2 separate regions of the Homo sapiens genome follow, and region 2 is linked to region 1. The links come from fine-mapping of genetic effects on gene expression. A gene starts in region 1. The other region holds a variant in brackets. All regions are shown on one strand. Distances are between the middles of the regions.

Region 1 (15,314 bases):
GAGACAATCAGAGAATTTCAGACTGGAAACTAGATGATAATGCTGTGGTTTTTTAAAAGTGTGATGATGATATATCTTAAAAATACTCTTAGAGTTACATTGTAAATTATTTACGAATGAAATATGATGATGTTTGGAATCTGCTTTATAACAATCCATGTTTTAGGGTAAAGTGAGGTTTACAAATGAAACAAGATTAGCATATATAAATAATTGTTGAAGCTGGGTGATAAGTACATTGATCTTTGTTTATTATTTTATTATTATTTTAGTATACATTTAAATTTTTGTGTAGTTTAATATTTTTCATGATAAAGTATCTTTTAAAAAAGCTACGTGCATTCTGCAAGTCAACATCAATAAAATGTGTATACTGCCTTAAAAATTATAGTAGCTGACTTTACAAAGAAGGTTGGGGTCATATCACTGGCTCCTAGCTGATTTTTTTTTTAAGTATAAAATACTAACTCTTTATCATACTGAATTAAGTTCCTAAAAGCTGATACATGTATTTTTAAGTAACTGGGAGAAGTTTGAAAGCAAATACATTTTCAAGATAACAAGTAAGCAGGCCATCACATTTAAGATATTTGCAAGATAACGTTATGTGGGGTAGCTAAGTGTCACCACTGCGTGCCCAAATAATGATTTCTTCATAAAACTGTCAAACCCTCCATATCAAGAATTCCAGCCTCAATTAAAAGGTTAAAATACACACACACACACACACACACACACACACACACACACACACCCCTTAGAAACTTATGTTAAGGAAGAGAGTGGAGGAGCTCTTTAGGTCAAGTTCTTCACAGAATCCTAACCAAGGATCCTGATCAAGTCCCCCGTAAAGCTAGAAGGGTCTTCCTTTACTACGTAATCACCCAGTGAAGTGCAGAATCATGGGATAACTAACTTCAGATACTCTTCTTTAATCACAGGAGTGCTACAGGGAAAAGCACCCTCTGATCTTTTGATCTCAAAGCTAATTTCAAGCAAGAGAATTATCAACCTGGGGATCATATGTAGATAAAGATGCTCTCTCTTGACCCTGAAACCACCTCCGTGGACTTTAACTGGAAGCTGAGGAGAGTGTATGGGAGGGAAACTCTCCGATCTTGCCGCCATCCTGCCCCATCCCACACTACTGATCAAAAGACACTCCCTTAAGAGTAATATTTAATTTTTCCAAAGTAACATTCCCCAGACCTAAATACTTGCTGGAATTCCCATTCCCTAACCCAAGATTTATGAACTGGGAATAGTCAGGGTACAAACAGGCTCACAAGAGGTGGAACAAACACAGGTCAACCACATCTTCCATGTTTGTAATGCATTTCGCTTTACATCACAAATTGAGTACATGAGGCCGGGCTCGGTGGCTCATGCCTGTAATTCCAGCACTCTGTGATGCTGAGGTGGGCAGATCACCAAAGGTCAGGAGTCTGAGACCACCCTGGCCAATATGGCGAAACCCCATCACTATTAAAGTACAGAAATTAGCTGGGTGTGGTGGTGCATGCCTGTAATCCCAGCTACTCGGGAGGCTGAGGCAGGATAATCACTTGAACCTGGGAGGCCGAGGTTGCAGTGAGCTGGATCGCACCACTGTACTCCAGCCTGGGTGACAGAGCAACTCTGTCTCCAAAAAAAAAAAAAAAAAAAAAAAATGAGTGGGTGGGGTAGGTTTCTAAAATATTGTAAAGTAAAAATAATAATTATGATAATATCATATCTTCATTACTTAGCAGCTGATTGTGCAGAATGAGTATTATAAAACACTTAATTTTTCCCTTCCATGCTATCTACCTTTTGACCACTTACTGCTTGAAAGAAGGGAAATAACTTGAACAAGTCAAGATAAACAATTGACTAAGTTTAATTTAATTTTAATCAATGCTTTTTTTTTAATAACTCTGGCCAAAAGATCTAATAAAGGAAATGGTTACGTTAGGATGTTATTTTTATTACAGTGGCCAATCTAGTAGAAAGAACACTGGATAGGCTGCCAGGGAAGCAAGTCAGAAGATCCATCTTAGTTCTGGTTCTGCTAACAGAACTAAGATCTGGAGCACGTCAATTCGCCTGTCTTCATTTTGTTTCAACAGGAGTTTCTCCATACTCAACATGGTGAGAGTGAACTACATGTTCTTTCTGCTCCAACTTTCTGGACTCCCACAGATACTGGTTAAATAACACAGGAGTGCTCATTACATAATGCAGGAAATGGAAATGACCACAGAACAGAAATAGTTTTAGTGATAAGGTGGCAGCTACCTAATTGGGAAAAGATTTCACCGGACTGTTGCCCATGACATTCCAAAGGCATGGTAAATTGTTTTAGCATAACATAGTGGGAAAAAGGCCTGGTCAGAGTTATGGTAATGTAATATAATATGGGTATTTGATTGAGCATGATGTATAAGAAAGGTTTTGTCTGCATTCCCATGGCTTGCAGTTTCCTTAATAAATCTTAAGCTGTTTTTGAAAAGCTACTTCTGCAATGACGTAAGCAGTGAGGCAGCCAGACATCACTTCTCAATCCCCTCTGAATATCTCTTGGCTGTGCGGCACTATTCACACTGGGTCTGCACTGGTCAAAAGAATGTAGGAGCTGGGTTTCTTTTGCCTTTATCTTTCCTTGTTTTAGCAGTAGGGTGGTCAAGAAAGAAATCTTGGAAAACTCTTGTAATCTTTAACTTTTTTGCTATTTCATAGGCTAGTTCCATGAACATACTGCCATCTAGGGCAGTCACATGCAATGTGCAAACAAAACATTCTAAGATGATCAACACCAATTCCCACTGAATTAGCAGCAAGTCTCAGAAAAAGCTGACCTGGCTTAAGGCCATCGATAAACAGTGGCATACACAATATTTTCTTTCCTTTTACTTTGTAAAGTAAGGAAAAGCACTTCATCTAATAAAATCAACCTAACACACTAAACAAGTATCTCCTGTAAAAATCCTCTCAAAAACTTTTTGACTAACCCTGTTACTCTATATCTTATTAATCTGTTTCTTTGTATAGCAATTACCTACAACCTCTAGTTTCCCACACAACAGTAAAATGATTTTTACACTTGGGTTTCTCTTATTGACCACTAGCTGCTATAGACAACTATCTTGCCTTTAAAGCAGATACAGCACAAAGCTCCTTTTCTGCAATGTCTAAGAAACATCCTTAAGCGTCATGAAAACAACTGTAAGCAAATTAACTCCCAGAAGGTTCAAATTCCTGGATGAACATAGAGAGAAGTTCTGCCTTGCTAAATGTTTACTTTGAAGGGATTTGAAAATCTGAGCTAACAATTTTGGTTTCATTTATTTTTAAAAGACAAGTTACTTTAATCAAATCCCAATAAATATTTCTAGCCAACAGTTATTTTTTTAAAAACTACTCCTGTCTCCTCTCCCATCATCTGAAAAACAGTAACAAGAATGGCCAGATGAAAGATGATAATGAAAAGACTGCTACACCCCTTTTGCATAGTACCTGCGGGGGGGCAGATCCCTTAAAAGGGCTATCACTCTTGAGTCATTTCTAAATATATCACTATGTACTTGGCTTTGAGGTGCACCCTTTGGCTAGTTGTCAAAATGATAAGAAACTATCTTAACACTTTTCAGAGGTTTTATGTCTCCCACCAAAGGCATACTAAAAACTTTCCTATATGGCCAGAACCTGTCAGATTTGAGTATTAGATAAAATAACTACCACAGGAGGACAGCTTGGCACCCAGAACTAGAATCTATAATCATGAGCCTAATGGCTAACCATAGCAATGTAAACAGGAGAGTATACATGTTTGTAATTAATCAGGCTATGGTGTACAACTTTTCTGATAATCATAAACTCATTAAGGTAACTCCTTTCTATAAACAGCCATTCACAAATACCATGCTTTTTAAACTCTCCCAAGTAATTAACAATAACTTTCTTTACTATCATTTTCTTTCCCATTAGGTAAACACATGGAATGGTAGAGACTGTGGGTGCAGGAGAAAGTACAATAGAACAGGAGGCTTGCAGATTCTGCCGCTATCTAACCCAGTTAGTTGGTTGGAGGGAAAAGATTCAGATAAGAGGATTTCTAAGGTTCCTTTTACCCCCATAGTTATTTTGTTCTACATGCTGAAAGAATAGCTAAGCTTGAATTGTCTTCTGATTCTTAATCCTAGTTCTATGCAATTGAATTTATATTAGATATCCCCTCATCAGCTTATGAATTTCTCCCACAATTTCCCCAACACTTGCTCATTTCCATATATGCCAGGTGTCTTTTTTTCTTCCATACTCAGGAGGCCTCTGTAATTCTCCCTTCTGTCCAAGCCAGCCCTATCCATTCATGTACTCTACTCTTAACCGATAAGGCAGGGAGGAACAGAAAATCTCAAATGTTCTGTTTTGTACCTGGATTCAAAAGCAACATCTGCTATGTCTGTGGAACCATCTGTTGCCTACTTTGCCATGGAAAGGACAGTACAGGCATCAGAAGTGGAGTGTCACAGGTCATATAATGGAATTACCCCTTTCTGGGACTGGGGCACCCAGGCACGTGCCCCACAGTCTCTATGGCTAATGCCACCCCTCCCCCATCGAAGCATTTATTTATTTTCTCACAGGGAATGGTGCTTTGAAACTTTTACACAAGGTCAGGTCCAGTGTGTTTTGTTTTTTGTTCCCATTTGCCTGAATCTCTATTTTAAAATTTTTAACTCCTGGGTTGTACCTAGAACTTTGTCTGCCCGCCCTTAGCTCGCTTGAGACCTTATGAGTCCTAAAGCTCTGAGTGTCTCAGTTTTTTACATCTATAAAAAGAAGGGGTAGAAATTAAGTGATCTCTGAGGCTCCCTTGTGCTCTAATGCTCCCAAATCCCATGACTTTAATCCATCTCAAAGTTGTCAATGAACACAAGTTCCTCGACCTCTATGGTATATTAAGACTCTAAATGGCAAGGACAAAAGAATCTGCTGCATACAAAACGGCTTCTATGATAAGGGTCTCTTGTTTAACACAGTTAAACAAGTTTCTTGAGGATCCAAATCAGATTAAGATGCCTAATCTTGTTAACCTACTCCCCCAGGCAATACTGTAGTGCAGGGTTTGGGGCTGCATAATTGTTTTTGTGTCCCGTGCATGGCAGGGTGCTTAACCGCATCCCAGGCCTCTACCCACTATATGGCAGTAGCACTCTCCTCCTGTCAGTTGCTACAACCAAAAATACGTTGCCAGTATCCTCTGGGGGCCAAAACCCCTCTCCCAGTGAAAACCACAGCTCTAATGTATGTCAGGACTTTAAGATAAAGCACATCACTTAGGTGTTTTTGTTTCAAAAGAGTGACATTTACACAATCAACAATTGGTACACCAAGACTTTACAGATAGATTCATAAGGCACAGGTACTCCACCTAGAAAATGTACAAAGCCACTGTCACTCTAAGCCATCCACAGCACCATAGCACTGCCTCCCTGCTAAGGGTTGAAAATCAGGATATAAAGCCATAACGTTAACTACTCCTTTAAAAATATTTAAAAGGAGACCGGGTGTGGTGGCTCATGCCTGTAATCCCAGTACTTTGGGAGGCCAAGGCAGGTGGATCACCTGAGGTTAAGAGTTTGAGACCAGCCTGACCAACATGGCAAAATCCTGTCACTACTAAAAATAGAAAAATTAGCCAGGTGTGGTGGCAGGCGCCTGTAATCCCAGCTACTCGGGAGGCTGAGGCAGGAAAATGGCTTGAACCAAGGAGGCAGAAGTTGTAGTGAGCCGAGGTAACTTCTCCAATGAACTCGAGAGTCAACCCTTGCTTATAGATCTCAAAATGGAGCTTTGAAGAAAATAGGGAAAACCAGAGATTGGTTAATCACTTTGGCTTATTTTTTCCTCTCTTGCATACACAACAAACACACATGGTAAATAAAACGTTTCTGGAAAGGTTGCTAACGAGTTTCAGCTTGGTCACAGTTATTGAACGGAGGAGTAAGCAAGCTCTCAGTCCAATTTCCCAAGTATCTTTTCCTCCCCTTTTCAAACAGGGATCCAGGCGACACTCGTGGCAGACGATCTCAACACCAAAAGAACAGCAGCTGCCAGCTGCATAAAACAGATTGAGGCCTGCAAATTGACTGAAATGATGACTACTCTTAACCAGACATCTCATTTTTCCACTTCTGACAGGCTGAGATCTGCAAACCTCTGGGTCTCAAGAGATGAAGGCTACATTAGCCAACTAAGACGACAAACTCAACTCTTCCTTGTCATTAAATAATTTGCCAGTTATAAATGGTTTGGTAACTTTACAGAATTTAAGTACATGTAATGTTTAAATTTCCCCATTAAATGTAAGAGGCAAAGAAAATCCTTTTAAATAACTAAGCAGAGGATATGAAAGGGGAGCCAAGAATAGACAGAACTGTTACTTTTCAAAGAACCTTCGCTCTTTATTCAAACAAATATTTACACAATTGAAGGCAACGGCAAGAGAGATATAGCCATTCTGTTAAAATAGTGGGCAACTCTAACGGTTTATTTATCCCAAATCCGACAGTTCTGTTGCTAACCTACCAGGAACCAAGAATTCAAGTGTTCACAGGGCAAAAGTTTAACCTTCTGAAACTGTGGACCTCATTTAGATCTCTCCCAGCCGAATTCAAACGTTAGAATCCCAGAGACATATCTCGAACGCCCAAATTAAACCAAACTAGGAAGCTTAAAATTACACGTCCAATACTTGAAAACCTACATCTGTAACTTACACGTTCATATTACGAAGGGAAATGTGGCTGACAAATATTTACACTAAAAAGACTCCACATTTTTATGCCTCGTCTAGTTACACTCCCAGCTGTGCCTGGCTATGACTAGTTGTGCATTCTAGAGCTCTTTAGAGCTACTTCAGAGTTGCAGGATAAAGATTTCTAGGGAAGAGGGCAGGGCCAGGCGCCCGGAGGATTTCCAGCCACGGGTAGTTTACCGAGAGAAAAAGCTGCGGGCGTCGCTCCCTCTTTTACATAAGAAAGGTAAGTGAGGAACCGCGAAGCAGTTTGACTTCTCAAGCTCTTTCAAACAGGAAACCCCAACCCTGGGAGGGACAGCCTGTCAGCCTTTTAATTTCCTGGTGGTGGCGGGAGTTAGCCAGGTCCTCGGCGCTTTAATAAGTGATGACTGCTAGGGCTAAGTTATTAAGCGAACCAGCAAACGATTCAGCTGCGCCTCCGCCGCGCAGGGAGCTGGAGAAACAGAGGGTTAAAATACTCCCCAAGCCTTCCAGCTGCTATCTCTAGGGGTGCCGAGACGGCCACACTGTAAACTTTCAGTGGGGGGTCAAAGGCCAAATCGAAATCAGCCGCTTTTGGCGGTTAAAGCTCGTAGGTTCACTCTTGAAAGAAAGTGGAACTAGAAGCGCAGCTAGCCAAATATTTGCGGGGAGGGAGTCTTCTCTGAATCCCGCGCCCTACACCATCCAGCAGCGGACCTTCTCTTTCTCAGGGAGCTATCCCAAGGATCCCCATCCCTCTCTCCATGTGCATTCCAGAGTTGCTGGAAAAAGTTGCCCCCAGTTCCCCCACATTCTGCCTGTTTTCTACAATCACTCTGGAAGCATCTTCCCTACCAGACACTCCCTCCCCGGGATCCCCTCAACCGGAGATCTACCCAGCCCCCCGAGAGTCATGCACAACGGGGTTCGCCACCCCCACCCACCCAGCTGCGCAGCCTGGGCACTGCCGACCCCAGCCCGGGCTTTTGTCCCTACAGCCTGTAAAGAAGCAAAGAAACTCTGTGTCCCCGGAGCCCACTCACCGTCTCATCTTTCCTCCAAACCGCCGCTCTACGCTGGCGCCGCCGCCCTAGCGCCTAGCCTTTGCCCCCGCCCACCCTGTCTCCCTCCGTGAGCCCGCCGGCCCCTCCTGACTCGCGGTGAGCAGTCAGCGCGCCCCTCCTCGGCCCGGGCAGCCACTGCCTCCTCTCCGCCCCCAACCCTCCGCAGCGCAACCGGCGGCAACCAACTCGGCCGCGGGGGAGGCAGCGTCCCCGGGACGCACTCCTGGCACACGGAGTCGGCACCACCCCCTCCTCCCGGGCGACCACCGCCGCCTCCTCACCTGGCCATTGGTGCAGCCCGTTCCCGGCGGCGAGAGAAGGCAGGCGCGCTCCTTGCGCCACGCCACACCGTCGGGCCCCCGTCGGGTCCCCCTCGGGCCGCAATGGTGGGCTCCGCGCGGCTGGGTCCGGCACTCTTGACCCCCTTTGTAACCACCGCGGCGGGCACCCAGGGAGTTCGAGCAACGAAGTTGGTGACCTGCCCCGCTCCCAGGCAGTTTGCTGTTGGGGCTTTCACGGCTGCTGGAAGGGCATGGCTGTTTGCCCCATCACTGGGCGCCAGCTTCTCAAAGCTACGTTCGCAGCAACGCAGTAGGGACTTTCGTGGCAGGCTTTTTTTAAGAGCTGAAAGAAGGGCGGGAGGGTTTACGTCCTAGGGTGATGATTTCCTCACCAGACAGCGAAGTATCTATTGGGAAACTCCAGGTGACCGCACCTCCTTCCGACAGTTCGCCCCGGGGCAAGTTTACCAGCTGCGTCAGAAAGCAGGTTTGCAAAATCCTTGGAGAACGGCCTGAGCTAAGGACTGGGGTCAGGAGGGTTTTAAACTCATTCTGATTTTCTTGCAATCATATCTCTTGAAAGTTTTTATATTTTCCCCAATATTTTTCTGAGTTGCTATATCCAATGAAAACAATGCTGATGTAGAGGTCCACCAGCCAATGCTTTATTGGAAGTCAACGAATGAGACCGAGGGTGGCCCATAATCAATCTCGGCACGCGGGAATGTGAACCTCTTCCAAGGTCTGGGCGAGTCCCTAGAGTTACGCAGATGAAGGACATTGGCCCTCGAGAATCTCACACCAGCAAAGAAGAGCACAACGAAGCGCAAACTACTTATGATCATTGTGGCTTTGGGCAAGTTGTTGTAGCTCCCAGCAACAATTTCTTCACCTGGAGTGCAGCAATAAATGATACTGGTGCTGCAGGGCAGCTAATAAGCTTCTGAATAATATATGCAAAGTACTTGGCACCATGAGCAGAACTCAGTATACCGTCACTGAAGAAATAGCTTATTTAATGATTACACTTTTCATATGTGCAAGTAAAAGTTTGACTTTTAGGGAGAGCCTCACCTACGGAATGTCTTTTTTAAATTTCTTTTTTAATTATACTTTAAGTTCTGGGATACATGTGCAGAACGTGCAGGTTTGTTACACAGGTATACATGTGCCATGGTGGTTTGCAGCACCCATCAACCCTTCATCTAGGTTTTAAGCTCCGCATGCATTAGTTATTTGTCCTAATGCTCTCCCTCCCCTTGTCCCCCACCCCCCAACAGGCCTCAGGGTGTGATGTTCCCCTCCCTGGGTCCATATGTTCTCATTGTTCAACTCCCACTTATGATGAGAACATGCAGTGTTTGGTTTTCTGTTCCTGTGTTAGTTTGCTGAGAATGATGGTTTCCAGCATCATCCACGTCCCTGCAAAGGACATGAATTCATTCTTTTTTATGGCTGCATGGTATTCCATGGTGTATATGTGCCACATTTTCTTCATCCAGTCTATCATTGATGGGCACTTGGGTTGGTTCCAAGTCTTTGTTATTGTGAACAGTGCTGCAATAAACATACGTTTGTATGTGTCTTTATAGTAGAATGATTTATAATTCTTTGGGTATATACCCAGTAATGGGATTGCTGGGTCAAATGGTATTTCTAGTTCTAGATCCCTGAGGAATCGCCACACTGTCTTCCACAATGGTTGAACTAACTTATACTCCCACCAACAGTGTAAAAGCGTTCCCATTTCTCCACATTCTCTGCAGCGTCTGTTATTTCCTGACTTTTTAATGATTGCCATTCTAACTGGCGTGAGATGGTATCTCGTTGTGGTTTTGATTTGCATTTCTGTAATGACTAGTGATGATGAGCTTTTTTTCATATGTTTGTTAGGAATGCCGGGTTTTTTAGAGGAATTCTTTTCCCTGTCCTGAGTTTTTGCCCTGCAGAAGCATACATACACTGATCAATCCAACAGTTAAACAGTTAAGTGCTCCAGCAATGTTCTTTTCTCACCCACGTCATCTCTTTCCTCCTCTTTTTTGGATCATCCCCATAAACATACAATCATTTTATTTCCATTACCTTGGAATTTTTTTTTCTTTTCTTTTCTTTTTTTTTTTTTTGAGACAGGGCCTCACTTTGTCACCCAGGTTGGAGTGCAATGGCACAGTCATAGCTCACTGCAGCCTTAACCTCCTGGGCTCAAGTGATCCTCCCACTTCAGCCTCCTGAATAGCTGGGACCACAGGTGCAGACCACCATGCCCAGCTAATATTGAATTTTTTGCAGAGATGGGGTTTCACCACATTGCCCAGACTGTTCTTGAACTCCTGGGCTCAAGCGATCTGTCTGCCTCCGCCACCCTAAGTGTTGGGATGACAGGTGTGAGCCACTGTGCCCAGCCTCCTACTTCCCCTTTATCACTCACTTAGCCCCTGCCACAGTGGCCTCGTAGACTAGATTCCTAGGTAAATCCGTTCTATCTCAGGGCCTTTGTTCTAATTGCCCTCTCTGCCTATAATTCCCTCCTCCCAAGTATCTGCATGGTTCACTCCCTCACTTCCTTCAAGACCCTGTTCAATGTCACCGTGTTGCTCAGGCCTGCTCTGACCACTCTACTTAAAAGTTTAAAATGTGTTTTCCATACTACTTAAATTTACTTTTTGACAAAGTCACCACATTCTACTATATTGTAAAATGTACTTTTTAAATTATGTTTATTGTCTGTCTCTCCTCACTAGAATGTAAGGCAGGCAGGCAGAGAGTTTTGCCTGTTCTCTCCAGTGCTATATCCCTAGTGTGCCTACAAGGATACCGGACATGTAAATGGTGCTCAAGAATAAATGATGGCTTTGACCCAAAGCACTGTGTTGCAAACATTTCCTTGCCTCGAGCAATGCCAGAAATACACTTGACTACACAGACATCTTAGAGACAACCTTTCTCCCTTCAGGTCTAAGGAGAATGTGCACCAACACAGCACATTTAGAATGGCCATAATTAGATTGCCAATATTTATGTCTAAGAAAAAAATAGCTAAATTTATTGAGAGCAATAATTACTATTGTATACGTATCCGGTATTCTTCCAAATATAGGACAATATTAGTTGATGCGGTGAGAGTTACTGTTTGTTACTACTCCCATTTTATAAGTAAAAAAGGAATCACAGAGAAGTCAGTTGTCACTCAGGTAATAAGTTGGTAGAGGCAGAATTTGAGCACTTGTTCTTGAGTTCATTGTCTTTAATGCTACCTTCTACCTCTTTTCTAAGTATGAATGTTACTAGGGGATATTTCTGTATAATGAATAATTCCAAATTACTAGACAAAAAGTAATCCTCACTGGCCTCCCTTCACTGCCTTGTTTTATCTGCTAGCATCTCTATCTCTTAGGATAGCCAAGCTCCTAGAAGGCAAAGGGAGTCATTTTATTCATATTTGTATGAATCATACTCCAAGACTTATATATGGAAGGGACTCAAAAAGTAGTCATTGAATGTGACTTTTTCAAGTGACTAAACCCAGCAAAGTTTCCCATTCCTGATGAGTTAGAGTGGTTTTCAATAGCTTTCATAAGGCCATAGCAGCCTGAAGATAGACGAGACCACCCTGAAGGTGCAAGTCTTAAATTAGATAAATTCAGTCCAGGCTCAATGGCTCATGCCTGTAATCCCAACACCTTGGGAGCCGAGGTAGCAGGATTGCTTGAGATTAGAAGTTCCAGAGCAGCCTGGCCAACATGGCAAAACCCGTCTCTACTAAAAATACAAAAATATTAGCCGGGCATGGTGGTGCACCATCTGTAGTCCCAGCTACTCAGGAGGCTGAGGTGGGAGAATCACCTGAGAATTCGAGGCTGGGTGATCCATGATCGCACCATTGCACTCCAGCCTGGGTGGCAGAGTGAGACCTTGTCGCCAAAAAAAAAAAAAAAAAAAAAAAAGACAAATGCAGACCTCAACATCTATAGAAAGCACTCAATAAAGTGCAACTGTTATTGTTATTATTATATTACCAGACTTTCTTTTAGTAATGGTGATGGAAAGAAAGAAGAAAGAAAGGAAAGAAAAGAAGGAAGGAAGCAAAGAAGGGAGGAAGGAAGGAAGGAAAAAGAGGGAAGCGCGGGAGGGGGAGAGAGAGAAAGAAAGAAAGGAAGGAAGGAAGGAAGAAAGAGAGAGTCTTTCTACCTTTTCTATTTCCTGGGTTCTTTATAATAAAGTTTTCTGTTTAATCACAGACCAGAGTCCTGCCTGCGCTCTGCCATTCCTTATCACTAGAGATATTGTGTTGTAAACTAAACAGCAGACCTTTCTTGTTTGCCTCTCCAGGATCTGTAGTGGTTACAGTCCCTGATCTTACTTTCCTGTGTCCTTCACCCTCTCAGGTGGGGAACCTTAAAGTGTTGCACAGTGTTGAGGCTAAAGCAACTCTATCTTGGATGCTAATCTGCCATGCTGACTTTTTTTTTTCTTTTTACCCTAATTCCATGGAAGATTACCTGTTGACTTCTGATTAACCCGAGTTCTGGGAATTACTCTAAGATTTGTACTTTATCTACTGATACCTTAAATCCTGCCCCTGGGTCAAAACAACCTTGACCATAAATCCTGCCCATGGGCAGATTCACAGAGCATTCTTGCCTCTCCCCAAGGGGTCGACTTCAATTCTCCTACACATTCTTTTCCTTTAGTTTATGTGTCTTGACTCTGGGAGTGACAGCGTGGAGATGCACCATCTTTTTTCACAGCCACTGGGGACATGGCTTCTGTTCATAAGTCTCTATTAAATGTTTCTTTCTGAGAAACTGGACTTGTCAGCCTCTTTCTTTGGCTTTTCAGCTTCTGTGGTCTTTGGGAGTAGGTTTGTACATACCTGCTCACTTTGAAACACATACAGTGATATTATGAATTATTTATGTTATTCCATTTGTAATTATTTTTGCTATTGTTCTCTTTTATTAGAAAAGATCGGTTGGATTTGATTAACTTTTTATGTCCTGAATCTGTATATTTGCTCCTTTCTCTGCAATGATAGCCTAACAAATCTTTGTAGCTATTAACTCATTTCAATCTTACTGCAGTTTAACTCATGGAACAATTGTTTGTGCTGAAGTTCGCTTTAATATTATGATGATTTAATGAATCAAGAAGTTTCTACTTGCAAAGTGCAGTGGAAAAATCATTGACTGTGAAGTAAGGCAGAACTGGGTTTTAAGCCCTGATTCAGCCCCTTTGCTAGCTAATATGGTTTGGCTCTGTGTCCCAAACCAAATCTCACCTGGAATTGTAATTCTCATAATCCCCAAGTGTCAAGGGTGGGACCAGGTGGAGGTAATTGGATCTTGGGGGCAGTTTCCCCCATGCTGTTCTCATGATAGTGAGTTCTCATGAGATCTGATGGTTTTGTAAGTGTCTGGCATTTCCCCTTCTTGCATTCATTCTGTCCTGCTGCCCTGTGAAGAAAGTGTCTGCTTCTCCTTTGCCTTTTGCCATGATTGTAAGCTTCCTGAGGCCTCCCCAGCAATGTGAAACTGTGAGTCAATTAAACCTCTTTCCTTTATAAGTTACCCAGTCTCAGGTATTTCTTTATAGGAGTGTGAGAACGGACTAATACAATAGCCAAGTAATTTGAGTGCATTATTTATCTTCACTGAGAAGCAAACTTCTATTCTGAAAAGTAAGAACTATTTTTTTTTTTTTGGAGATGGAGTCTTGCTCTTGTTGCTCAGGCTGGAGTGCAATGGCACGATCTTGGCTCACAACCTCTGCCTACTGGGTTTAAGCGATTCTCCTGCTTCAGCCTCTGGAGTAGCTGGGATTACAGGCATGCACCACCATGCCTAGCTAATTTTGTATTTTTAGAAGAGATGGGATTTCACCATGTTGGTCAGGCTGGTCTTGAACTCTTGACCTCAGTTGATCCACCCACCTCGGCCTTCCAAAGTGCTGGGATTACAGGTGTGAGCCACCGCACCTGGCTGAACTCACATTTTATGAGCCAGTGTGTTAATGTAGGTACCATTCCTTGCACAGAGGACAGACAGCACAAAAAGAACACCCAGCAGAGTAGTTTCCAACCACGTTTGCCTTTCTGGAACTATTGATAATGATGTTGACCATTGAGTTATACACTGACTGTCCTATATAAGTTCAGTTCCAATTTACACACTCTTTTTAGTACTTAGATAAATTGTCTCTCTAAAAAATGAATGTACTTTCATTTCTTAGAAAAGTCATCTTCATCTATTTTCACATTGGATCTGCAACTGTTGTTAAGGGAAACTATGTAACCCACTGTTTCTCTTTGTATCCTTGTTGCCAGGAAGCCCAGAGTCAAGCTTACCATTAAATTTTTGTGTAACGGTAATAAAGACTTTGCTTTCCTCTCCTTTTTAAAATGTTGATGTATTTTTATTCCAATAACCTTATTGAATATTTGGTTTTTACTATACATTCTCTAATATATATTTAAATAGATAAAGTATAAATAACATATTAATCAAATTAATACCAGAATGTTAACCAAAACTAAAGTGAAAATAACTTTTTAACCTCCTAGGGGCATAAAAAGGGAAACACCTAATTTTTGTCTCCTCAAGTTTAATGATTATCCCCATGTGCTGGTTTATCTTTAAACAATTACAAGGTAGGTTCTCTAATTATGAGAAAAATGTAAATCTATTTGGAACATCTGATTAATTTCTGCATTAAACGTTCTCCTTCTGCCCTACCCCCAATCTTTTCTGTGAGTCTGTATTGTAATCAGGCAGGAAAAGGATGGTGTGTGTGTATGTGTGTGTGTGTGTGTGTGTGTGTGTGTCTTTTAGATTAACCTATCCCAGCTGTGTTATCTGGCTCACTTTTCTTATCACTTGAGGACCCTGAATTGGTCTACTTTGCCTGCGTAGTGGGCTTAAAACAAGGAGTTTCTCTGTATCTTATCTGCTTATCATGGAAAAAAGAAACCAACACCTTAACAGCAGTATTCCTCGATACTGAAGAGAACTCAGCTTCTCTTCTCTCTGTTGGTTTTCTTTGTTTTTCCTTTCATCTGACTTTCATCATCCCTCCAGTTATACCATACCTTGATTTCAATTTGTCCTTAATGTTATACATAAAGATAATTATATTATGTATAAAGATAATTATACATAAGGATTATTATAATATATAATCCTATGTATAATATTAATTTATGTATAT
Region 2 (15,314 bases), 55 kb after region 1:
AGTGTTAGCTTTTGTGTTCACTGTAACTTTTCATAGAGTCACAATTCACACACAGCATTCCTGCCTTCAAGGAAACTGTCTTAAACTCCATTTGTATCAACTGAAAACAAATGGTGATCACAGAAAGATGGCCTGGATATATGGATGATGTTCTAAATGACTGGGAACATCCTAGAAAAAGAAATAGTCTGTAAAACAAAAATCTGTCTGCCTGAAATATATTAATGGCCTTGGAAATGGAATCAGAGATAAGAGACAGCAGAGAAGCCCCTTTTCTTTAATCTAAATACTGGAATTCAGGTTCTGAGATTTCACAGAGACGGGGTTGATAGCAGGGCCAGAAGAAAGAGAGCAGATGTTGATGAAGGAACATTCCAAGCAATTTTCTCTCACCTTGGGGCAATGTTTTGAACATGCACAGTTAAGGTGGAAAGCAGCTTATATAGGATGAAGGTCACAAAAATGAATATAGTTTAGACATCATGATTTCATCTCTTTCTCTCTCCTGGACTTTATCATAATGGCATCATCCAGTGTGCTTAGAGTGAGCAAAAGATGTTTGTTTTTAATAATTCTTTGGCAGATAGGTCAGGAATGTAGGCCTAATATCCTGCTTTGCTTATATGAACCTTAAAAACAGAATTATAGTATCTGAAAGACAGAAAGAGTTTAAAGATCATCATTTCATTTTTTCGTGTGTGTGTATGTGTGTGTGTAGTGAGGAATCTATTGATTACCTGTATCACAATCAATAGGGTGCCAGTAAATAATTAAGATTCCTGAATCTTGTCACAGAGCAAGTGAATCAAAATTTTTGTGGGGCCTACAGGTTAAAAACCTGCATATTATTAATAATAAATAAACTGCCTAACGATTTCTTTTGTACATTAAAGCTTGACACTCACTGGCCTAATCTACCCTTTAATTTGCCAGTGAGAAAACTGGGCCATTTCTTCACCAAGACTAATTGGTAGCAAAATATGCATAATGCAAGAGTTCTCCTGACCACAGTAGAATACATTTTTTAAAATGATTTCATGAAGAGACTTGGACTCTCCTATAGCAATGATTACTTTCTGTTTCATGCAAACACCAAGTCCTGAAAGGTTCCTTAATGGGATAAAGCTTCTAGTTTTGTAGGTACTTGGTTTTATTAGTTAAATGCTAAATGGAGTACATTTTTATAGGAGGCTTTAACTGTAAGACCAGTTACTTAAATCCTCCTGAGAAATATCCTGATGACTCAGGATGAGACATCCCCTGGTCTCTTCTTGCATCCAAAGTCCTTTTTGGCTCTGCTTACAGATTATCCTGTTTAATAGCAAAGATGTTTCCCTGAGGGGGTTCATGGAGCATGTATCTGGGCCATTTACCTAGGATGACAGCTCTTTGAAATCTCTTCTGTATCCTCTTGCAGAGCTAGTTTAGTGCAGATACAACTGTACATCCCTACACAGATCAAACACATTTCCCAAACTTACTGTCCAGTGTATTTATTTATTATATTATATACTGAGGATCTTTGTAAAATTTATTTTGGACAAAGGATTCCGTTGTCAAAAATAAGGCATTTGGAAGACATATTTTTAAAAATGTGTTGCTTTGAAGAGTAACACTGATTTCTACATTTAGGGATAGTCTGTGTGGGTTGCTATATCATTGCTATGGACGGAATAGCGTCCTTGGAAAATTTATATGTTGAAGCCCTAACCCTCAATATGACTGTATTTAAAGAGAACTTTTAGGAGGTAATTAAGGTTAAATGAGGTCATAAGAATGGGGTCCTAATCTGATAGGATTAGTGGTCTTAAAAGGAGACGACAGACAGAGCCCTCTCTTCACATACATGCACCAAGGAAAGATCATGTGAGCACACAACAAAGTGGGGGCTGTCTGCAAGCCAGGAAGAGGGCTCCCACCGGAAATTGAGCATGCTGGCACCCTGAGCTTGAACTTTCCAGCTTCCAGAATTGTGAGAAATAAACTTCTGTTGTTTAAGCCGCCCAGTCTATAGTATTTGTTATGGCAGCCTGAGGAGATTAAGATAGTCATGCAGAGTAGGCCTAGTTTCAGAAATGGACATGAAAACACACGGTAATATGGTCCCAGATAGGCCCCTTCCTGGAACACATATTTCCTATCTCAGGTGCTCTCAGGTTGTGGTTAGTGTGTATGGCCTCTGTGTGTGTCACCTTGCATTTGGCTTAATAGCCTCTAGCTTCTTTCAGATAGCTCCATGGCAGTGTTAGAGTGATGCCCTACTGGTGTTTCCTTAGGATTGTTAACCATAACATGATGCACTAACGCTCTTAAACCAGCCTGGACAACATAATGAGAGCTCATCTCCACAAAAAAGTTTTAAAAAATTACCTGGGTGCAGTGATGCATGCCTGTAGTCCCAGCTACTTGGGAGGCTGAGGAGGGAGAATTCCTAACTATAGGTTGTACAACAGAACTCTAGAACGTCTTCATCTTGCATAACTGAAATTTGTTACTCTATTATATGCTTGAGGTGTATCTAAACTCTTGAGTTTGCATACTCTTTTATTACATCATGACTATTGTCTTCAAACCTTTACAAGTGACTGGGCTGATAAACTTAATTTAAAGTGACTCTTACTTCAGGTAAGTTATTTCATTGATTCATATTTCTTCCAAACTTAGCACCACCACAAATCAGAGCTTCTTGATGATAGGTAAATCTGCCAGGCTTTGCCTTAGCAACAAAGAAAAGCAAACTTACTAAAGATATTTCAGGGTCAAAGACCTGATATACAGTGATAAGTTGGCATTAGATAAAAAGAATCCATTTTAAGAACTGAGGGAGCTAATAAGTATGTGGGTGTTTGTGGAGAAAAGAAGAGGAAATCAGGCTTGTGAGGCTGGGCAGTGGCCCACTGCTGGACTTCAGATAGACTTTTCAGATTACTGACATGCCATAGAACCACAGGCTTGGAGACAGCATTCTCATAAGGGAAGAGGTTGAGCATAAGGTCACCCAAAGGCAGAAGAAAATATTTATTTTACTATTTAGAGTTGTTTTCCTTTCTTTAAACAAACTCTCCATCAATTCCACAGCAAGAGCTTTCTTCTGGCACATCTGGTTTATGTGAATACATTAGTGAGTTTCCCAGGAAGCCGCAGCATCACACAAAGGCCCATGATCATTTCACCAGGTAATGATTAATGTCATGTTACAGTTTCACAATATCATAATTGAATAATCAATTAACTAAGGTTTTGTGAGTACTATGTGTGAAGAACAATAATTTATTTATGTGACTATTCCTCCTCGATGACAGCAGTCAGTTCCTTCTGGAAAGTATAGATTAAGCCATTGCATTTCTTGGTAAATAAATATACTAGTCAAAGACCAAGATATTATTTATGTGTATGTACTAATGACTTTAACAGAGATATAAACCCTTATTTTAGGAATTGTTTAGTACTAGTAGTAGAGTTCTAAATGGATGCTATATAAAGAATTTGCTCTTTATTATATTAGTTATGAGAATTACAACCAGTGAATCATAGTAACTGGAAAATACCTTAGGGTTATAAAAGGAAATCCATTAATTGTACAAATTAAATATTTGAAGACCAAAGAGGGCAGGAGACTTATCCAGGCCTCCTGAGTCTTTAGAGTTTTTAATTAGAGCACCAGTCCATGCAGATTGTATTTGTCTTCTTGAAGCTGTGACTCATGAGATATACATGTATTGCTTAAGAATACATGTTTACTCTTTCTGCACTACCTGAGTGACAGGATCATCCATGTCCCAGACCCCAGCACCACGCAGTATACCCATGTAACAAACCTGCATGTGTACCCTCTGAATCCAAAATAAAAGATGAAAAAAAAAAAAACCCAGAATATATGTTTAAACACCCAGCTCTGACCGAGGACTCAAAAGAAAAGTGGCAGCACAGGATGTGGAGGTGAAGGGCAACCTCCTTTTTCCGAGCAGACATAGCTAATGTCATTCATGCAAAGCCCTTATGTTTGATTGCACAAACATACAACACCATGTAGAAAAATAAGAAAAGATCATCTGTGGATAGAACATCTGGGTGGGTACAGCTAGTCTCTGTGGTTTGTCTCTTTCTAAGATGTCAGAGTGGCATACTCTAAAGACAGTTCACCCCACAATTTTGAACACATTCCCTAAGACCCAGAGAATCAAACTGTTAATGCTGCTGTGAGTTCTTTACAATGGTTTTACATTAATATTGCCAGGAGAAACTTTAAAATCACCAATGCCCCAGCCCCTTTCCAGACCGATGAAATCAGAATTTCTGGGCTGGGTCCCAGGCATTGGTAATTTTTAACACTCCCCAGGTGACTCTAATGTGCAGCCAGGCCTGAGAACTATTGAGTCACTCATAAAATTAGGCAAAAAAAAAAAAAAAAAACACCCAGCTTATTTATAAAATGGTCCTCTTATCAAAGAAATAAAGCAATGTTCAGTTAACTACATTTAGCAAATAATTCCCAATTTAGCTGGCACTGTCTTAAATCTGTGAGATTCATTCTCCTCCTCTTCCTATTCCTCTTCCTTCTCCTTATTCTCTTCTCCTTCTCCTTCTTCTTCTCCTTTTTTGAGACAGGGTCTCACTCTGTCGCCCAGGCTGTAGTGCAGTGGGTCCATCATAGCTCACTGCAGCCTTGAATTCCTAGGCTTGAGCAATCCTTCAGCCTCAGCTTCCTGAGTAGTCAGGACTACAAGTGGGACTACAGGACTACAGGCGTGTAAATTAAAAAAATCACGCGCCTGGCTATTTTTTTTAAATTTTTATTTTTTTGTAGAGATGGGGTCTTCCTATGTGGCCCAGGCCTCCTGGGCAAACTCCTGGCCCCAAGCAATCCTCCCAACTTGGCTTCCCAGAGTTGCTGGGATTACAGGTGTGTGCCACTATGCCTGGCAGGGATTCATGCTTCTTTTGAGATTTAAATAAGTCAATGTTTAAACCCTAATCTTCAGTTTCCAACATTTATGACTTTCCCTCTTTATGTTCTTTGTCTCAAGATGAACATTTGTACTTTAAGTGATTTTCTAGTCAGCAATTATCATTTATTAAATTCCTAATGTTTGCCTGTCTCTATGTTTGGTACTCTGTACACTTAATTTATTCCTCACAACAGAGCTATGCATTAGACATTATTATCCTCATTGTATATAAGGGAAAATTGAATCTCAGATAAGTTGAGTTGGATGGCTAGAAATAGCCATTCTGATCCCCTAAACCAGGTTTATTTTTTTCCTATTCTAGTATCCTGTATCTAGTATACTGTATCCTGACAATAGCATGGTGTCACAGCTAAGTCCTGGACTGAGAATCGGCAAATGTGTGCTCTGGACCTGCAACTAATGTCTCTTACAAGTCCCATAACTAGAACTTCTTCATCTTAAGAAAACAAAAAGGGGCTGGGCATGGTGGCTTATGCTTGTAATCCCAGCACTTTAGGAGGCCAAGGCAGGAAGGGTGCTTGAGCCTAGGAAGAAGTTCAAGACCAGCCTGGACAACACAGTGAAACCCCATTTCAAAAAAAAAGTTATTAAAAAAAAAAAGAAGGGCTAGGTGCAGTGGCTCATGCCTGTAATCCCAGCACTCTGGGAGGCCGAGGCAGGCGGATCACCTGAGGTCAGGAGTTCAAGACCAGCCTGGCCAGTGTGGTGAAACCCTGTCTCTACTAAAAATACAAAAATTAGCCAGGTGTGCTGGCTCGTGCCTATAGTCCCAGTTACTTGAGAGGCTGAAGGCACGAGAATTGCTTGAACCCGGGAAGCAGAGGTTGCAGTGAGCCAAGATTGAGCCACTGCACTCCAGCCTGGGTGACAGAGTGAGACTCCGTCTCAAAAAAAAGAAAAAAAAAAGAAGAAAAAAAAAGAAAAGATTCAAGAAGGCAAGAAAGAAGCCAGTCACAGAAGACTACATTTTGTATTATATAAAATTCCATTTATATGAAATTTCTAGAAAAGGCAAAACTATAGAGACAGAGAATTGGTTCGGTGGTTGGCTGGGGTGGGAGAGGGGATTGACTGCCACAGGTGTGAGGGAACTTTCTGGTGTGATGGGTATGTTTTAAACTGGACTGTGGTGCTGGTTGCATAATCATATATAGTCATCAAAAATTCTATAATTGTACACTTACAATGGGAGAATTTTATGATATGCAAATTATTCCTCAATAAGGCTGTTAAAAATGGTACTGGGACTTGCACTAGAAGATGACTGCTATAATGATTCTAGAGATACTAACTCTTTATGGCATTTTCACAGCAGATAACTTGAATTGTTGAATCTTTAACAACATTTTGACCTGTTTTTTTATGTACCCATTTAAGTATCCAATTGATAACTCTTGACCAATTCTCTGTCTCTATTGTTTTGCCTTTTCTAGAAATTTCATATAAATGGAATTTTATATAATACAAAATGTAGTCTTCTGTGACTGGCTTCTTTCTTGACTTCTTGTATCTTTTCTTTTTTCTTCTTCTTTTTTTTTTTTTTGCATACATCTATGCAACCACCATCACAATCAAGATATAAACATTTCCATCATCCCAAAATTTCCCTGTGTCCTTCCCAGTCAACACTCCCACTCACCACCCCTGGCCCCAGGCACCACTGACCTGCTTTCTGTCACTATAGATTAGATTTGTCTTTACTAGCATTCCATAAAAATGGAATCAGACAGTATGTATACTTTTGTGTCTGGCTTCTTTCACTAAGCTTGCTGTTTATGAGACCCATCCATGTTGTTGCATTTATCCAGTAATTTTTTTTCTTTTTTTTTGAGACGGAGTGTTGCTCTGTCGCCCAGGCTGGAGTGCAGCGGCGCAATCTCGGCTCACTGCAAGCTCCGCCTCCCAGGTTCGTGCCATTCTCCTGCCTCAGCCTCCCGAGTAGCTGGGACTACAGGCATGCGCCACCATGCCCAGCTAATTTTTTTGTATTTTTAGTAAAGACGGGGTTTCACCATGTTAGCCAGGATGGTCTCGAGCTCCTGACCTCGTGATCTGCCCGCCTCAGCCTCCCAAAGTGCTGGGATTACAGGCTTGAGCCACAGCGCCCGGCCCCAGTAATTTTTTTTATTGTTGAGTAGTATTAGCTTGTATGGATATATCATAATTTGTTCTTGGCTATAATGAACAAAGCTGCTATAAACATTTATGTACAAGTCTTTTGTGGACTTATGTTTCATCTCTCTTGGGTAAATTCCTATATCTAGGAGTAGACTTGTTGGGTAACAAGGCACACGTATGTTTAACGTGTTAAGAAATTGTCAAACTGTTCTCCAAAGTGACTGAGGTTGACACTTTCAAATTCTACATTCTTGCTAGCAGTGTATAAGACTTCTGGTTGCTCCACATCCTCCCCAGCACCTAGTATTGTTCTATTATTTTATTTTTCACATGAATAACTTTTTATTTTACCAAAAACTTGATATTGTTCTATTGTTATTTATGTCAATATTTTATTTCTCAGTGAAATTTATTACATAATTTTGAAGTTTTTCTCAAAATAAGAAGTGGCCCACTTTTTAGAAGCCCTGTGTGCAAATTAATTCTTACTGTTCAGCATCACAGTTATTTAAAAAGTCAAATAAACACTGCAGTTTAGCAAAGTTTTCCCCCCAAAATTTCAATGGTAAGTATTAGCTGTAATTTTAAATAAGAAATGAAAGTTTAATTGGGCAAAATCTGGACATCCACATGGAGTAAAGTAGAAACCTATTAGTCAAGTGATGTGGGACTAATTTTTTGAGGTTTAGCTCCATTATTACTGTACTTATGCTGCAGATAGTATATCTTATACTCTGCGTAGAAAACAATACATCAGTAGGTTGGGGCCTAGCATCATCATTTACTTTTTTGCATCTGAGGCTTCTTTCTTTATTTCTAACAGGTTGACCTGAACATCATTGGCTAAACATAGGAAATCAAGAAATTGTTAAAACTTCGCCAAAGTTTTCTACCTCTAATAGTTAAGAGATGATGAAGGGAAGACTCTGTTCTTCAGAAGAATTCAATAATGTCTTCTTTCACAGGCTTTAAAAGATTATCTCTTCAAAGATTCTTCTAACTTTTTGTTTGTTTATAGACCATGTGTTCTCAATAGGAACAATATTGTCCACCAAAGGGTGAAAATTGGTTCTTGGGGGGTTTAACATTTTCTTACTATTTTAATGTATAAAGCACAGATATACCTATATACAGTTCACAAACAACATAATGGTGTCTCTGTGGCATTAAATCTCATGGAGGAGAGGACGATCAGAAAAAATGTCTAAAAAGGCTTCTTTAGGGATGTGATACTGAACAAAAGTTTAGAAACTGAATTAGAGGACAGGAAAGGCACATAAAGAGTTTAAAGGGACTAATCAAACAGGACGTTTTCAACTGATTACATGAATTTGGTCTGAGACTGATTCCTCAGAATGCCCCCCACTCTCAAGATACCATTTCACCTGAAGTCATTAGCTTTGGAATAGAAAGGAACAAATCTACGCTTTGTTAAGAAATATTTGTAAATTGGAAATTTTCATTCTTTATCTCACTTTGTTTTAAAGCAACATCAGAGAAAAAAATTGTTATATCCATTTTTTATAGCTGAGGGAAGTAACGCTCAATGAGGTTAACACTTTCAAATTCTACAAAGAATACACAGTTTCTGAGTGTAATTAGTGAATGTAAGAACCTGAGTTTGTTTGATTTCAAAGCCCATGATTTCCTCCCACTCATGTGCTAGCCAGGGATTGCTGGTGGGTGAGATGGTGTTCCATTCTACTATCCTGAGTTCACTGAAAATTGACTCAAATGCCTGAGTCAGGAATTGATGTGTTCTCACAGCTCGAATTCTGGGAAGACTAGTGGTGGGGGTGGGGCTGTCACTAAGATGTCCAGGAGTTCTGCACGGGGTGGTGGGGGCACATTCTCCCGGGA[A/G]GTTTCAACTGGACTGGAGTTTACAGGAATCCAAGAGCTTTGGCTAGAACAGAACCAATCTCAGGATTGCAGAGAACCCTGTTAGTAGCAACCTTACATTCCATTCCATATTTGTCAGTGAGGGAGAGGCACTCTGATCCCCATCAGAAATTTGAAGAACCACATAAGTTTTGGCTAGCTGCCTGTTCCCTCTGCTTCACAGCTTAACGATGAAACTTTTGTTTGCTGTGTTCTTCCATCCTCTGCTCCCAAGTAGCAGATGCCAACCAAGGAATGACTGCTGATTTCAAAATTAGAGAGATGGCCATATAGACTATGAACATATAGATCATTTCTGCTTTTTCTTTTGTTTCTAGAGATTAGTATAAAACTTTTTGTACAACATCCCCTATACTCATTAAATCTGTGACATCCTTGTTGCTACCTGATATCATATATCTGCTTTATTTTATATTTCTGCTTTTCCTTTTCCAGTGACAGGTTGCCATTTTAAAGATGATTAATTATCTATCATTTGGGAGCAGGACCATAACCTTTAACTTTTCCTGACAGGACAAAAAACATGTGTTCACACCACCCACCCTTATTGATTCTCATGGTAAGGAAGAAGAGAGGATCATAAACTAGAAGTGAAAAAATGGAAGTTTTAGTGCTTTTTCTTTAAAAGAGAGAGAATGCATGATGCTTGCCTCACTCTGCTGTAACGAATGTAAGTTAAAACTAAAATACAGTTTAGAAAACTTTCACATATTACTCACAAGAACAAGCTATGAGTGTTGTTATTTTACTATTTGCTAAATGTATAGTACTAATGTCTCTTCTAAGGGACAAATATCAAGCATTTCACAAGAGGTTACACGTCATCTTGCTCTATGCTAGCATGGAAATAAATGAGAGTTGGGAAAACAGGAAATAAATATTCTAAGTTATCAGGGAATGCTGCCAAGGCATCATAGGAGTGTCATTAGTTATTTTGGTTTCTCAACCAAGACCTGAGATACAAGGCTAGTGGGTGGTGTCTAGGACAACACAGAGAAAATGAGGAAGCTCTTGGAAAGTGCTCTCCCCTTGCTCTGTCTCCCCTTTATTCTTCACTCTGTAGGCCAGATCCTCTGGAGGCAGAATGCAGCCACCACTGTGTTTACACTTTGGTACAAGAGAGGTTTCTTGTATGTAAGCACAGTGCTCCATGGAGCCATAGAGATAGCTGGTGGCACTCTGCAGTTTTCTGTGCAGTAGCTTGATAGACTGGAGAAAGCCTGAACTAGGAGCCAAAGTTTTGATGTTAGATGCATAATCATCACAAGTAACACAAATCAATTTTTAGCAAGTTACTTAAATCTTTCTATCCTGGTTAATTTATTGTTTTACATTCTAAAAATTGAGATAGAATTCATATACTATAATATCCACCCTTTATAAAGTCTAGAATTTGATGATATTTGTGATTACATTCACAAAGTTGTGCAACCATCACTGCTATCTTATTCCAGAACATTGTCATCATTCCAAAACAAAACAAAACAAAACAAAACACCCATATCCATGAGCAGTCACTCCTTACTCTTCCCTCCTCCCAGTCCCCAGCAACCACTAATGTATGTTCTGTCTCTATAGACTTGACTATTCCACACATTTCATATAAATGTAATTATATGTTATGTGATCTCTTGTGTCTGTCTCCTTTCACTTAGCATAATATTTTCAAGGTTCATTCATGGTGTTACATGTATCAAAATTTTATTTCTTTTTATGGGCAATAATACTCAATTGTAGCTTATTGTTTAGTCACTCATTCATCTGGTCATCCATCCTTCACCTACTCTTCACTGAATACTTATTATGAACCAGCCTTGTCCTAGGCTCTTGGGACACATTTATTCATATTTGTGACATGAATGAATAAAGGCACAAATTTATTAACTATTATATAAAGATAAATATGAGATCTTCATATCACCTCAGTTAAAAATATTGGGTGAACAGATTGTTTATGAGCTTTTAAAATTTTGAGGTCTTTGTATCCAAAGGAGACCTGAGTTCTTGTTTAGTTTCTGTGTCTACTTACCCCTTGAAACTTAGATTAGAGGAGGGAGGGAGGCCTGCTTCATGAACCCCAGGACTGTGGGTTATTTCAATGTGGCCCTGTGCTCAGAGGGGCCTATGCTTGTTTTAACACTCTGTTGTGACTGTCTTGAAATTCTTAATAACTTTTGAACAAGGGGCCTTGTATTTCATTTTCCACTGGGCCCTGTAATTTATGTGGCCAGTTCTGAAGGGAGCAAATATTTATTAAGTGTCTACTCTGTATTGGCCATTGAATTTGACCCCACAGCTCATGTTGTTTAACAAGTCACATTTCTCTATTTTAAAAATGAGAATGTTACATTTAATATTATTTAAGGTCTCTTCTATGTCTAAATTTCACTAATTCTAAGTCTTGCAAAATGATCTATGAAGGCAATGTATTATACTTGTACCAGCTGATTCATCTTTTCAAGATTTATCTTAATTGGCATAACTTCTTAGAAATCTTCCTTGATTCTTTCCCCAGCCAAATTTAGTAAGCTTTCTTTTGTGTTCTCACACTCCCTCAGTGTTATTAACAGAGCTTTTTATAAAACTGGATTTTATGAAGTAAAAATAGTTTCTGTCTCTCTCATTGCATTGTATGTCCCCTTTAAATCAGGTACTGCATCTTAGTTAACGTGTAACTTGCAAAATGCTTCTTAAAACAAGCAGGATTAAAGAGTCCAATAGTAAAAATGAAAGTTCAGAAATGCCAGTTCATGACATTATTAGAGATGGGAAAATCTGAGGCAAACACATAGTCCACAACAAAGTCACTGGAATATAGAAACTAAAGATATACAGTGAGAAAAGAAATTAGGACATTTGCCCAAGTAAACTTAACTTAAAAGAACTATAGTTTTAAAATGATATATGCATAATAGTATAGGAATTTAATAAACAAAAAGTAATACAAAAGTAATACCTCTCCATAATTTTAAAATAATCAAAAGGCACAGAGGGTATAAAATAAAAATTTCTTTTCATGTAATTTCCCAGTCTCATTTTCCAAAGATATGCTCAATAAGAGTTTCTTGGCCAGGCATGTTGGCTCACGTCTGTAATCCCAGCACTTTGGGAAGCCGAGGCAGGCAGAAACTTGAGCCCACGAATTTAACACTAGCCGGGGAAACATGGCAAAACCCCATCTCTACAGAAAATTGCAAAAACTAGGTGGGCATGGTGGTGCATGCCTGTAGTCCTAGCTACTCAGAAGGTTGAAGTGGGAGGATTACCTGAGCCCAGGGAGGTTGAGTCTGCAGTGAGCCGTGATTGTGCCACCACACTCAAGCCTGGGTAACAGAGTAAGACTCTGTCTCAAAAAAAAAGTTTCTCGAGTATCCTCCTAGAAATGCTTTATGAGGAGTACATTTATACACTCTTGTTATTGCACAAATAGGATTCTATTTATATTTCTATATAGTTATTTTCCTTGCCTTTTACTTAGTAATATTTTTTAGACCTCCTCCCATATTGGTATCTATAGATCTCCCTAATTCATTTTCAGGAGTGCATAGTACTCTATGACATGTGTTGAACACAGTTAAATAAAGCAGTCCTTTCTGATGAATACATAACATTGTTTTCAGTTTCTGTAAATTATGGAAAACCACAATAGATATCTTCACATAGGAAGATATTCACAGTATAAATTTCCAGCAGTGAAATTGCTGGAAGTCTTTATAATTTGATTTTAAGAAAAACTTAATTCAGTACCCAACCTGATGTCTTTGAGACAATTTCACATTTACTTGTTTGTTCTTCTCCCTCACCTTCCTTTAGAATTTCTTTTTTCTGATTGGGATGACATATTTCTAAAGTATTTCTAGCTTTCAAAAAAATAATTTATAGAAAATCAGTCTATATTTTTAAAGACCAATTGAAGCTGTCTACCTCACCAATGTGAAGAACTGAAGTAGAATTTAATTTTCTTTTCTAATACTTTTTTCTAGTATTAAATTCAAAGACTACTATTCCTCTTTTATTTACAGCAGTCTGTGTTCAAATTGTGCTGACACCATGATAGATTTCAGAGTGATTTTTTTGGCTATGTGGGCCTCTCCCATTATAATAAGAGTACCAGCTTCTTAATGCTTGTGATATGATTTGGCTGTGTCCCCACCCAAATCTCATCTTGAATTTTAGTTCCCATAATCCCTAGGTGTCATGGGAGGGACCCAGTGGGAAGTAATGGAATCACGGGGGTGGTTTCCCCCATGCTATTCTTGTGATAGTGAGTTCTCACAAGGTCCAATGGTTTTATAAGGGGCTTCCTGCTTCACTTGGCTCTTATTTTTCTCCTTGCTGCCACCATGTGAAGAAGGATGTGTTTGCTTCCCCTTCTGCCATGATTGTAAGTTTCCTAGGGCCTCCCTAGCCATGCTGAACTGTGAGTCAATCAAACCTCTTTCTTTCATAAATCACCCAGTCTTGGGTATGTCTTTATTAGCAGCATGAGAGTGGACTCATACAGCCTGTCTCCATGTTAGCTCACCTTCCTGGCCCTCATATGAGGTCTAAACAACACTCCTTTGCATAGTAGAAATTCAGCATATATTTTGAAATTGATTGTATTGGAAACATCAAAGATGCCAGATCCTAGAATTGTTCAGATTAAAGATAAAATAACATTTTATTTTATTTTATTTTATTTTATTTTTATTAGAGACAGGCTCCGGCCCTGTCACCCAGCCTTGAGGACAGTGGCATGATCATAGCTCACTGCAGCCTTGGCCTCCTGGGCTCAAGTGATCCTCCTGCCTCAGCCTCCCAAAGTGTTGGGATTACAGGTATGATACACTGCACCTGACTGAAAATATTTTAAATAAATGCTTTAATAATTTCATTGCAGTTTTGTGGCCCAGGTAATTTTCACTTAATCTTACTTGATTACAGAAAGCAGTATGAAAAGTAAACACAAGGAAGCCTAGAACATACCAAAATTCTCCTATACAGATGATTTGAGTTTTAAATATTTTTAGGTCTTATTTCCTTGCTTTCTTTAGAATGATGGTAAAAATTGACTTTTTAAACATCTTTTGAAAAATTAGAGCACTCTCAGATTTAGAATGTTCCCTGATTCTTTTTCTTCTTCTTTTTTTAAGATAGAAAATTTGGGAGTAAATTATAAAGGCCAAGGTCTTAGAAGTTCACCTTGTTTTCTATTCCTCTACAATTGTTTTTCAAATTTTTCAAATTTTAATTTTTTGAGATAGGGTCTCACTGTGTCACCCAGGATGGAGTGCAGTGGCATGATTTTGGCTCACTGCAGCCTCAACCTCCTGAGCTTAAAGGATCTTCCCACCTCAGCCTCCCAGGTAGCTGGGACTACTAGCATGCACCATTACACTTAGCTAATGTTCTTATGTTTTTATAGAGATGGGTGTCTCACTATATCGCCAAGGCTGGCCTCAAACTCATGGGCTCAAGCGATCCTTCCACAGTGGCTTCCCACAGGGCTGTGATTACAGTCGCAAACCACTGCACCCTACCCTATTTCTCTACAATTGAGTAATCACAATTGCGTAGCTTTCGGCAAATCACTTCATTTCTCTGAGGCTTGGTTGTTCTGTTTTCTGCAAAGTTAAGAGCATCTTAAATATCTATCCAGTTCTAAAATGGTAGGACATCAAAGTGGGAGTGATGGTGGAGAAGGGTTGTGAAAGTTGCTTGTAAACATATTTAGCAGATTTACAGAAGTCAAACAAAGCAATGAAAAAGTTCCACATATAGGAGGAGTTTAAAAAGACACAGATGGTAGCAAAAATAGAACCAAGGGATTTTTGCCTTTGTCTCATGACAGACTGTCTTACGGAATCCTTACACATGGATTGAATTGCTTTCAAGTAAGGCAGTCAACAAGAATATGAAGGAAAAATTCTGTGGCAATGGCTGGGCCTCTAGTTATTCAGTGTCTGAGATAAGAATTAGGAAAGTGAGATGGTCTATAACCCACAATAACTACTCTCTGTGTGTGTATGTGTGTGTGTGTGTCTGCCTAAATAGAACTTAAACCATTCAAAGTTCCACATCTTTCTTTTTCATTTGTTAATTTCTTTAGCATCTGCTATTCATTAGGCACTGGTGATATGTGGTCAGTGGGGGAAACAGATATTGAGTCAATAATCACGTCAACACATAGATAATGACATATTGTGGCAATGCTAAGAATGACAGTAAATATAATGAGAAACTAAAGCAGGGTCACTCATTTAGATTATGTAATCAATGAAAGCCTTCTTTGAGGAGATCACATTTAGCTAAGACATGAGGCATGACCAGAAGGTAGGCAGGAAA

The links.
Region 2: its variant is fine-mapped to the expression of PHLDB2 in fibroblasts (GTEx, PIP above 0.99). The same link has a PIP of 0.9 or more in subcutaneous fat and tibial artery.

Annotation. Positions count from the first base shown.
Region 1 is chr3:111,852,371-111,867,684 of GRCh38, reverse strand. PHLDB2 (pleckstrin homology like domain family B member 2) reads right to left here and starts at 8,420. Exons shown (of 18, transcript NM_001134438.2): 1 at 8,109-8,420. LOC105374040 (a long non-coding RNA gene) reads left to right here and starts at 6,869. Exons shown (of 4, transcript XR_924333.4): 1 at 6,869-7,025. RefSeq lists enhancers at 6,987-7,096, 7,427-8,011, 8,012-8,598 and a silencer at 7,903-7,962.
Region 2 is chr3:111,797,046-111,812,359 of GRCh38, reverse strand. It overlaps LOC105374040 (a long non-coding RNA gene), which reads left to right. Exons shown (of 4, transcript XR_924333.4): 3 at 3,079-3,176; 4 at 7,912-13,182. LOC107984087 (a long non-coding RNA gene) reads left to right here and starts at 13,765. Exons shown (of 4, transcript XR_001740848.2): 1 at 13,765-13,807. It also overlaps a transcript of PHLDB2 not described here. The variant A/G (reference allele first, on the strand shown) is at 8,949.